Regions from separate parts of the Homo sapiens genome. Here region 1 is linked to region 2. The links come from fine-mapping of genetic effects on gene expression. A gene starts in region 2. The other region holds a variant in brackets. All regions are shown on one strand. Distances are from middle to middle.

What was found. PIP is the estimated chance that this variant, and not a neighbour inherited with it, causes the effect. A credible set is the group of variants that fine-mapping cannot tell apart.
Region 1: its variant is the best candidate, but not a certain one, in a credible set for the expression of SLC35A1 in lung (TOPMed, PIP 0.55).

What each region holds. Positions count from the first base shown.
Region 1 is chr6:87,560,264-87,565,263 of GRCh38, forward strand. It overlaps RARS2 (arginyl-tRNA synthetase 2, mitochondrial), which reads right to left. Exons shown (of 20, transcript NM_020320.5): 3 at 3,867-3,969; 4 at 2,439-2,522. Among named protein-coding and RNA genes, the nearest start is that of RARS2, 27 kb to the right of the region's middle. The variant C/T (reference allele first, on the strand shown) is at 2,947.
Region 2 is chr6:87,469,708-87,475,242 of GRCh38, forward strand. It overlaps SLC35A1 (solute carrier family 35 member A1), which reads left to right and starts at 3,267. Exons shown (of 8, transcript NM_006416.5): 1 at 3,267-3,312. The coding sequence starts at 3,297. LOC124901357 (a long non-coding RNA gene) reads right to left here and starts at 3,238. Exons shown (of 2, transcript XR_007059668.1): 1 at 3,066-3,238; 2 at 1,743-2,791. RefSeq lists enhancers at 2,914-3,820, 3,816-3,985, 4,036-4,135 and a silencer at 3,226-3,365.

The sequences.
Region 1 (5,000 bases), 90 kb after region 2:
CATGCAAAGTTTAATTTGGCAAATTAAAAAGCGTGAAATAAAATGATGTTATCCATTGTGTATTTCTGAAGCATCCCTAAGAAAACAGGGTTTTGTTTGAATTTTTCCTATTTGGTTGAGATCATACTTTCTTTTTTCCCTTTTAACAATTAAATATTATTTGAAGTTACAGTTTCTCTTGAAAGTACTGCAAGCTACTGACAGGTAGAAGTTTGGTACCAAAGTGACAGTTCTTTGCAATGTCATTATGGTTATTTCTCAAACAAAGATATATTAATTCTTTGTTGGTCCTAACAAGAATCGAATTTTTTTTCTTGATGTGATCTGAAAAATCCATTAAATATGCAAATGATGGCAGGGCACGGTGGCTCACGCCTGTAATGCCAGCACTTTGGGAGGGTGAGGTGGGTGGATTACCCGAGGCTGGGAGTTCAAGACCAGCCTGACCAACATGGAGAAACTAAAAATACAAAATTAGCTGGGCGCGGTGGTGCATGCCTGTAATCCCAGCTACCTGGGGAGGCAGAGGCAGGAGAATCGCTTGAACCCGGGAGGTGGAGGTTACGGTAAGCAAAGATCGTGCCATTGCACTCCAGCCTGGGCAACAAGAGCAAAACTCCGTCTCAAAAAAAACCATGCAAATGACCATCATCTGAGACCTAAAACTTATGGTGTAAACCAACTTACTGCACTGCCAGTTGTATAAAAGTATAGCACATACAATTATGTACAGTACATAATACTTCATTATAAATGACTATGTTAGTGATTTATATATTTACTTTTAATCATTATTTTAGAGTATTATCCTACTTATTAAAAAATGGACTGTAAAACAGTTAAAATTATAAAACTAGAGATCCAATACGTGAGAAAAACAGATGCTATAAGCTTGAGAAAAGAAAAATAGCTCAGAGTAGTCTCAGCTATGTGAGGTATGCAGGCCCAGAAAGACATGCATATCAAACATCAGTTATGCACAAACTCTTCCTCCTATGGGTGGGGGCAATTGTTTTATGTGATTTTGTTCCCAACTAGCTGCCTCACACATTATCTTCATGTTACTGGCATTTGTGACACAAAGAAAAATATACAGCCTATCAATAGCTTACATTATTTTAATGTAAATTCTGGTTAACAACTCAAACTCCCTCTTCTTTCCCTTTAAAAATCCACTTGTAACTGCTGCCTATCAAAGGGTATATTCACGGCAACTTGAATCTGTGCTCCTCAGCTGCAATCCTCAAGCCTGGCCCAAGTAAACTCTCTACTTATATTAATTTTGCCTCAGTTTCCTCCTTTTAGGTTGACAGCCAAATGTAGAATACATTAAATTTTCAGTAAAGAAGAATTATCATTAAAATTGTAACACAAAGCAGAGGTACATTCAATAGTCTTTTTCTGAACATGAGTGCTCACTGCTCCAGGATCTGATTTTACTGTGACACTGAGCAGGGCAACTGTAAGCAGTCCGCTTGCTCCTTTATTCAAATTCTCACTAAGATTCAGATCCTCAAGGCTGCAATACGGAAGAATTCCCATGTGAGAAAGAGTAGTTGGACTTCAAAGCCCTGACTCTTGTCCCTTCAATGTCAATTGAGAAGGATTTGGGAATATTTTTAATAAGTGAGCTAATGGGTATCCTTAAATCAGAAAAATTCTTTAGTTTGTTAATTGCAATAAAGCTTGAAAATTCATGGCCATTGAAATTTTTATTTTGAGACAAGGTCTCGCTCTGTCACCAAGGTTGGAGTGCAATAGCACAATCACAGCTCATTGCAACCTCAAACTCCCAGGCTCAAGCGATCCTCCCACCTCAGCCTCCAGAGCAGTTGGGACTACAGGCGCAAACTATCATGTGTGGCTAATTTTTAAATTTTTTTGTAGAGATATGCTGCCAGGGCTGGTCTTGAACTTCCGGGCTCAAGTGATCCTCCTGCCTCAGCCTCCCAAGTGCTTATACAAACCTAGATGATACAGTCTACTATACGCCTAGGCTGTATGCTACAGCCTATTGCTCCTAGGCTACAAACCTGTACAGCATGTCACTGTACTGAATATTGTATGCAACTGTATCATAATAGTGTCTGTATACTTAAATATATCTAAACACAGAAAGGTACAGTAAAAATATGGTATTGTCTTATGGGACCATCATCTATACACGTTGTGTATGAAATGTCATTATGTGGTATATGACTATACAGTGCTATGAGAGCATATAAATGAAGGGGTCAGAAAGCTACTGCCAAAGAAATATCAAGATTTAAAGGATGAGTAGGTGTTAACTTGGGGTGGTACTCTCCAAGTTATGGATCAGTATGTGCAAAGGTTTTGAGGCCAGAGGAGGCATAAAGAATTTAAAAACTGGAGGAAGACCACTGTGGCTGAAGCAGACAGAATGAAAGCACAATGGCTGGATATTAACTTATTCTTACCTTTGTTAAGAGCTCTCTGTTTATTTTGAAATTTACAGTCCTTTGACCAGTACTGATTTCACTCACCACTGTATCACATCTTAGCTGAAAAGAACAAATCACACAAAGTAGGTATGTTATATAATAGGCCTAATGAGATAGGTAGTTCTAATGCTATTTTTGGCTTACAAAGACACAAGTAAGTCATCTTTCATGGTCCCTATATCGGGTCCCAGTTCTCAGGCAATCTCTTTAGTTCCATACTTCTATTTAAGTAAACACATTTTCTTTTTTTCCCAACTAACATGCTATTCTGTATTCAGTCTCTCTCTTCCTCATTCTCTTTCCCTCCCCTCAAATTCACCTTGTAACAAGTAAGAAAAATCACTCTACCCATATTCTACCTACTCTGACATACGATGAACACTTTTTATCTCACCTAGCTTTCATGAGAGCCACAGAACATGACATTCTGTCAGGGTCTACGCTAAAGCACCTGCACCAACAGATAAGATGTAATTTAGATAGT[C/T]TGTCTTCTATGCATATGCCTTCACTTTTTAACCTATTAGATGTTCGAAGCCATCTCATGAAAAACCTATGGAACTTGAAGAGATATCTGCTGTCACTAAAGAGCAACTAGTCTTTATTTTTAAGAACTTACAAGAAATGGGGAAAAGGAACTAAATACTGTATTTTGAATAATTCTATTCCTGGTAAATATCTGGGAGTGATTTTCTGATCAAATAAATATTTACTAAGCTACCAATGCTCCTTTATCATAGTCACCCTTTAAATAAGCATCTTTTTCTATGATAGTGACTTTCATTGTTCCAATTCTTTTGAGTTCCCAGACACTGACTCTGTGGATGTATGTTAATAACCTTGTCCAACATTATCTGCCTTTTCTGAGGGAATTACACTAACAATTTATGTTTAGTAATTCCTTGCAATCCTTTCAATTCCTCTGTTAGATATCAAACCCATCAGAGAACTTAGAAATGAAAGAGGCTTATTAAATCATCTAACCACCTCTTCTCTGTAATCATGATTCTATTTACATCTAATCATTTCTTCTCATATTTCAATGTTCATCTTTTCAGAAACTCATTTTAAAAATTGCAACTCACTGCTCTAATTTATCAAGCTTGTTCTCCTAAATTCAAAAGTCCATCCAGCTTCAATCTGTAAATTTAATTAACACTTCAGTCTTCCTGTAAGTGGTTAATCAAAAAATTGAACAATGTCAGCTCAAGAGGAGTGCTTTATAACTAATCTGAAAAATCATTATAACCTTATAGTACATGGCTAAAATGAATTTAAATTATATTACACAAGATGCCTCAAAGAAACACTATTAAATTCACTATTATGGCTGAGATAGCCTGCAAAGTACTTTTTTTAATAACAAGTTTATTACAATGTCAAAAAGAGATAATAGTGCTAACGTACCTTCTCTGCTAGTCTCTTGGCTTGAACTTGAATATCTGGTCTTGAATGGTCATTGTCTTTTTCCAATAAAGAATCCACAGAAAGCTGAAAATCAGCTACTTCTCTAAAGACAGACATCGAAACGAGATAGAACTGTTACCTTAAAAGCATTAGTTGTTAAACAAAGACTAATCACTATGAGTTCTCCATTGAGACATACCTTTACCAGAAGAAGGTGTTATGTGTACTTTCAAAATTAAAAGCAAGGGGGCCGAGAGCGGTGGCTCATGCCTGTAATCCCAGCACTTTGGGAGGCTAAGGCAGGCGGATCACCTGAGGTTGAGTTCTAGACCAGCCTGGCCACATGGTAAAACCCCATCTCTACTAAAAATACACACACACACACAAAAATTAGCCAGGCATGGTGGTGTGTACCTACAATCCCAGCTGCTTGGGAGACTGAGGCAGGGGAATCGCTTGAATCCTGGAGGTGGAGACTGCAGCGAGTCAAGATTGTGCCACTGCACTCCAGCCTGGGTGACAAGAGCGAAACTCTGTCTCAAAAAAGTAAATAAAATAAAATAAATAAATAAAAAACAAAATTAAAAGCAAGAAAATGAGAAATAACCTAGTATTTATTCAGAATGTTTTTCTTATCATCTTATAAAATTCTTCCTCTTCTGTCTGGGCACAGATCCCAGCACTTTGGGAGGCCGAGGCAAGTGGACCACTTAAGGTCAGGAGTTTGAGACCAGCCTGGCCAACATGGAAAAACCCCATCTCTACTAAAAATACAAAAATTAGCCAGGCGTGGTGGCATGTGCCCGTAAGCCCAGCTACTCGGGAGGCTTAGGCACGAGAATTGCTTGAACCCAGGAGGCAGAGGTTGCAGTGAGCTGAGATCATGCCACTGCACTCCAGTCTGGGTGACAGAGCAAGACCTAGTCTCAAAAAATTCTTCCTCTTATACTAGCCACCTTATTTTATAGACATGAAAACTGATGTCTGGCAAGCTAAATGTCTCCTTTAAAATCCTACTGCAAATAAAAACAGACTGAGAAAAAAGCCCAGGTCTCTTTACCTCTTCTACAATGCTTCCTCTACTACTCCAAATACATGCTTCTAATTCAAACCTCTCCACTGACCTCCAAATGA
Region 2 (5,535 bases):
TAAATCAATATTTTTTTCCTCCAAGACTGAGGATAATTCAGAGTGAGAAAGTAAAAATTAGTTCAGAGTAAGACTGTAAATAGCTGCTTGGTCATTAATTGAGCTGGGATAACAAACCCAGGTAAACCCTGCTGCAAAGTTAATGGGAAATAACTAAGTATATGCTGACACTATAAAGTATAATAGCAAGGCCCTTCTTTGAGTGTTTGCTTTCTAATTCACTGAAAAACTTTGTTCTCTAAAATCATATACTCTAGGAAAACTTGCTGCTTGAAATTACATCAGTAAGAATGAAACACCCTACTTTTGCTTGGGGGGATCTACATCATTTTCATACAAAGAAGCAGCCTCAATTAAGGGGCTCCTGAATACAACATTCCACATCTATGGTAACTTTGTAGTTTTCAAGAAACAGGATCCTGAGACTGTTCTACAGTCCCTATTGGATACATATAGTCCTGCTTTGAGTTTATCAAACACTGCTTCCTTTAAATTTCACCTAATCCCATCCTTCCCTAAAATTCTATAAATTTATCTTTTTTGTTTCCTGAGATACCTCTGGTGTTCAGTTTCCCTCATTGGAATGTGTTTTAGGTGGTTCTTGCAGTGCTATAAAGAAATACCTGAGCCTGAGTAATGCATAAGAAAATAGGTTTAATTGGCTCATGATTCTGCAGCCTGTACAGGAAACACAGTGCTGGCATATGCTTCTGGGTAGGCCTCAGGTAGCTTTTACTCATGGTGGAAGGCGAAGTGGGAGCAGGCACATCACATGGCCAGAGCAGGAGAGAGAGAGAAAGAGAGAGAGAGACTTTTAAAACACCAGATCACCTGTGAACTCAGAGCAAGAGCTCACTTATCACCAAGGCGATGGCCCAAGCCATTCTTGAGGGTTCTGTCCTCATGATCCAGAGCTCCCACCAGGCCCCACCTCCAACATTGAGGATTACAATTCAACATCACATCTGGGCAGGGACAAATACCCACTTTATATCAGAAGGCATCAGTAAGCTCAACTTTGTCAGACTATAGTTTGGCAGATTTGTCCTGTTGGTATTGGGCTAACTGGGTTAGGACAAAGAGGCATGAAAATCTAGTTAAGTTTGATGCCAGTGAAGTATAATAGTCTTTTGAGGCAATGAAAATGTATAAGAAAAGTAGGATTCAACAGCATGATGTTATGTGAACCAGAAATGCCACAAAAATGGCTCAGCAACATTTGACCCACCACTTTAATTGGGATCTCTGTGTGTGTGTGTGTGTGCGTGTGCGTGTGTGTGCATGTGTGTGTGTGTAAAATGCGCTTCCTCACCAGAAGGAATGATAGTTCCTAGTTGATTCTACCACCTAGGACAGGAAAAAACAAAACCTCTTGTTGCCAGAAATTAAAACATGCTTCAAAAAGCTAGTGCAGGCCAGGTGTGGTGGTTCACACCTGTAATCCCAGAACTTTGGGGGGCTGAGGTGGGAGGATTGTTTTAGGTGGGGAGTTCGAGAACTAGCCTGGGCAACAAAGTGAGACGCCCCCACCCACAATCTCTACAAGAAGAAAAAAAGACAAAAAAAAAAAAAAAGTAAAAACAGCTGGTGCAGACTTGAAAACAGAGGCAGGCTTACAAGTGCCTTTTGGAACAAATTGAGCATTTAGAAATTATACTTAATTGATGTAAGCTGACACTATAATGATAGTCCAAAATGGGACAAGATAAACCATACAAAGCAGTAGCTGTAAAACGAAGGACTATATGATATAATATTTTTAATTTTTAAAATTAATTTCACGTACATATATGAATATTGTTTAAATGTATGCATAAGTACATACACAGTAGAGAACTGAATAATTCTACTAGTGGAAACTGTATCAATTACAATAAGGGAAGATTAGCACCAGTGAGCACACTTACTACCAGGTAGAGGAAAAGTCCAACACTATTGCAAAATGAGATTAATCAAATGTCTGCCTCTACAAAGTCAACTCTGGTCTCCTGGGAGCCCCTCCCAATATTAATATGATGCTAATAAGGCATGCAAAATGTTCCAACAATGTTAACAGACCAGATATATCTATATGTATATTTAACAAGACAATGGTATACAACCAACCCTCTAAAAGGACAATTTTGGGGAAAGAACATGCTGCAGAAGGTGTGGGCTGCTGGGCAGCTCAGAATCTTGCATCCCTATTCCTGTAAGTGCTGAGGTATTTTCATATTATTTTAAACCAATCCACATATCTTGAACATCATTTATTTCACCAATGAATTATTTCTAATATCAATTATGATAGCTAATTAACATCCCCTAGTGAAAGTGGAGATTATAGTGGTTAAAATGCCTGTTGATATATCTAATTTTTTTTGTTTTTTGAGACGAAGTCTCGCTGTGTCGCCCAGGCTGGAGTGCAGGGGCGCAATCTCGGCTCACTGCAATCTCCCGGGTTCAAGTGATTCTCCCGCTTCGGCCTCCTGAGTAGCTGGGATTACCGGTGCGCGCCACCACGCCCGGCTAATTTTTTGTATTTTTAGTAAAGACGGGGTTTCGCCATATTGGCCAGGCTGGTCTCGAACTCCTGACCTTAGGTGATCCATCTGCCTCGACTTCCCAAAGTGCTGGGATTACAGGCGTGAGCCACCACGCCCGGCCGATACATCTGATTTTTTAAAGGCCGTTTTGTTGTGCGAAGATCATTAGTTAGAATGCCTGGCTGGGTAAATACAACCGATGACTGCTGACGATATGGAACAGGCACAAGACTTCTGAACGATATGTAGAATAAATTATAACTTATCTAGAACACAAGGTAACAGTGGAAGATAATGAGCCAGGTGGAAGTTACAAATGTTGCCGCAAGTAGTTTCTGTTACTTTACGAGTTCTGGGAGCTTCTCTAACAGCTTTGACAGGAGTGAATCCCCAAGGCTAAACCCAAATCCTTATTTGCCGCCTACTCACGCCTTTGTGAGGACTACGATTCCCAGACGGCAACGCTCCCTTCACTCAACTTCCTTAGCTGGCGGGGAGACGCAGTTTACAGAACTACCTCCCCAACCGAATTTCACACACCTGTCACCTAGGACGCGGCCGGGAAGGCCTCCCTTCGATCCGCGTTCTCCCCATTTTGGGGTGTAGCTTGGATTCCTGAGCCCAGTTTTAGTGCGTGGCCGACCGGGAGGCCGGCGAGGCGCTCTAGGCCGAGCGGCTTCGTCTCTATGACCACAAGGGGCGGTCCCCGGTGTCCTGCGCGGGGGCGCGGAGGGGGCGGGCGTCAGTTCCGCGGGGGGCTGTCGGGGAACCATGGCTGCCCCGAGAGGTGAGAACTGGGTCTGCTGGGAGTGGGGAGTCCGCGGGGGGCGGCGGCGGGCGAGCATCTGCGCTGGTCAGCCCCTGTCGGGCAGCGGAGCACCCTGGTTGCCCAGTGCCTCTGGGGCCTGGCTGAGGCGTCAGGAGTTTGCGTGGAGCCGCTCCCGGCAGTCAGGGCAGCCTGCCTTCCGCTGCGGCTGCAGTCTCCGCGGCTGACTCCGCGCTGGGCAGGTCGGAGTCAGAGACCGCACTGACCTCCACTAGCTGGGAGTGGGTGGGAACCGAATTCTGACAGGCCGGGGCTGCGGCGGACCCGGAGAGAGGCCAGGGCGTGGGTCCGGGGCTGGACCGCATTACCCAGCGAGGCAGGACAGTTCTTCACCCTGGCCCCGCGGCTCCGGTCTCCTCTGCGCCTCCTACCCTGTGGATGCTCAGAGGCTTAAAGGCAGGCTCCGGGCGCAGATCCCATGCGGCGGCTGGGCCATGCAACAACCACTAAAGACATCACTGGGGCGTCAAAACAGCACTGAAATCGTAACGAAAGGAAGATAACAGTCGTTAACAGTTCCCACCTGTATGCTGTGTGTAATTATAGAGAATGCTGTATGCTGCTATTTGGGGTGGAAGCTGAGATCCACCTCCCTCCTCCTGAGGGATGGCACATTCGGGTGAAGGCGTATTTGTTGACTAATTGACATTTAAGGAGGGCGAGTCTAATTGACTCCGCACCACTTTTTGCTGAGCAGTGTGTGTAAGTTGGGACCAGAGGTGGATTCTTTGACTGTGGTGCATTAACCAGGAGAAGTTGGGCAACACCCGGATTCTTGCTCCACCCTTCCTCCATAGAGCACTTGGCTTCACCCTTGAATAAATATTGAACGAATACATAAGGAATATCTTCTTGCGTGGGTTTCAAGTTATTTTCCCTGTTGCGGGGTCCATGTTTCTCATCAGGCCCTGCCCAGGGGCATTGTCTTTAGTTGCATATGCTTCTCTTATGTCTTCTTTCTGTTTCATTTCAAATAAGTCCAATCTTAAAAGCCTTTTTTTGTAGCAACACAGGAAATAAAAGAAAAAGAAATAGAATTGTTTTGATAACTAAAATGGAATGGGGATAGCAAAATTGATCCGAACGAAAACTTATAAATTACAGAAGTCAAATCATTACTTGAAATAGCTGCAACAATGTAAAGGTTTAGGCTTATTGCCAATACATATTTGTTGAGCCTTGATTGTAATCCTAACAAAACTACAGTTTCCATAGTTTCCGAATATCCACAAAGGATTTATCTGGGACTTACAGAATTTCTAAGTTCTTAAGTATTACAAATAATGTCCCCATAAACTATAGTAAAACATAACCGAAAAAAAACATTTTAAACTGTAAGTTTCTTTTGGGGGACATTTCCACACAAACACTATATGGGAGCTAATAGAATTTCGTGAGAAGCAGGGAACAATGCAGGGTTAAGATGTGGCTGCCAGTTGAGTTGTGGGCTAGCTTTATAGTTACTGGCATTGGGTGTGATTTGAATTATTTGCCCAATTTGAAGTGATTACATATGGACTTTTGCTGTTACCCTGAAATAATTGAAATTGCTAATAACTGAAGTTTTATACTGGAGAATTTGTGAATGGAGTGAACAAGAAATAGTTTGGTCTGATGTTAAACTGCCAGAGAAAATCGTACTTAAAAACATTTAGTATTTAAAAGTTGAAATACGTTTAAAAACTGGTATTCCATGTCAAAGCCCAATCTGTTTTGCACATACCTAAACTTATTTGATTACCCTTCCACTTAGATCAGTAGTTATTTTCAAGAATATAATATATATTCCCATATACTCACTATGCAAAAAGGTATTTTTTCAAGTTAATGACAATATTATAAGTCAGAATATGTTTGTAGGCTATCAATATTTGGTTTAGTGTTTAAATATTCACTTTGTTGTTTTTGGAATCAGGAACCTGTACAGTAGCTAAAATAAAGTACTTTTTAGTTTATCAGCCCTAACTTCTCTTATTTATGAAAGTGTTGATAATCTAGGACATGAGATGGCAAACTTTTCCTGTGAAGGGCTGGATAGTCTCTTGTCATAACTACTCAGATCTGCTGTTGTAGGGAAAAAAAAGTAGCCTGGATAATTTAGAAACAAATGAGCATGGCTATGTTCTAATAAAACTATTCATGGACACTAGAATTTGAATTTCCTGCAATTTTCACATATCACAA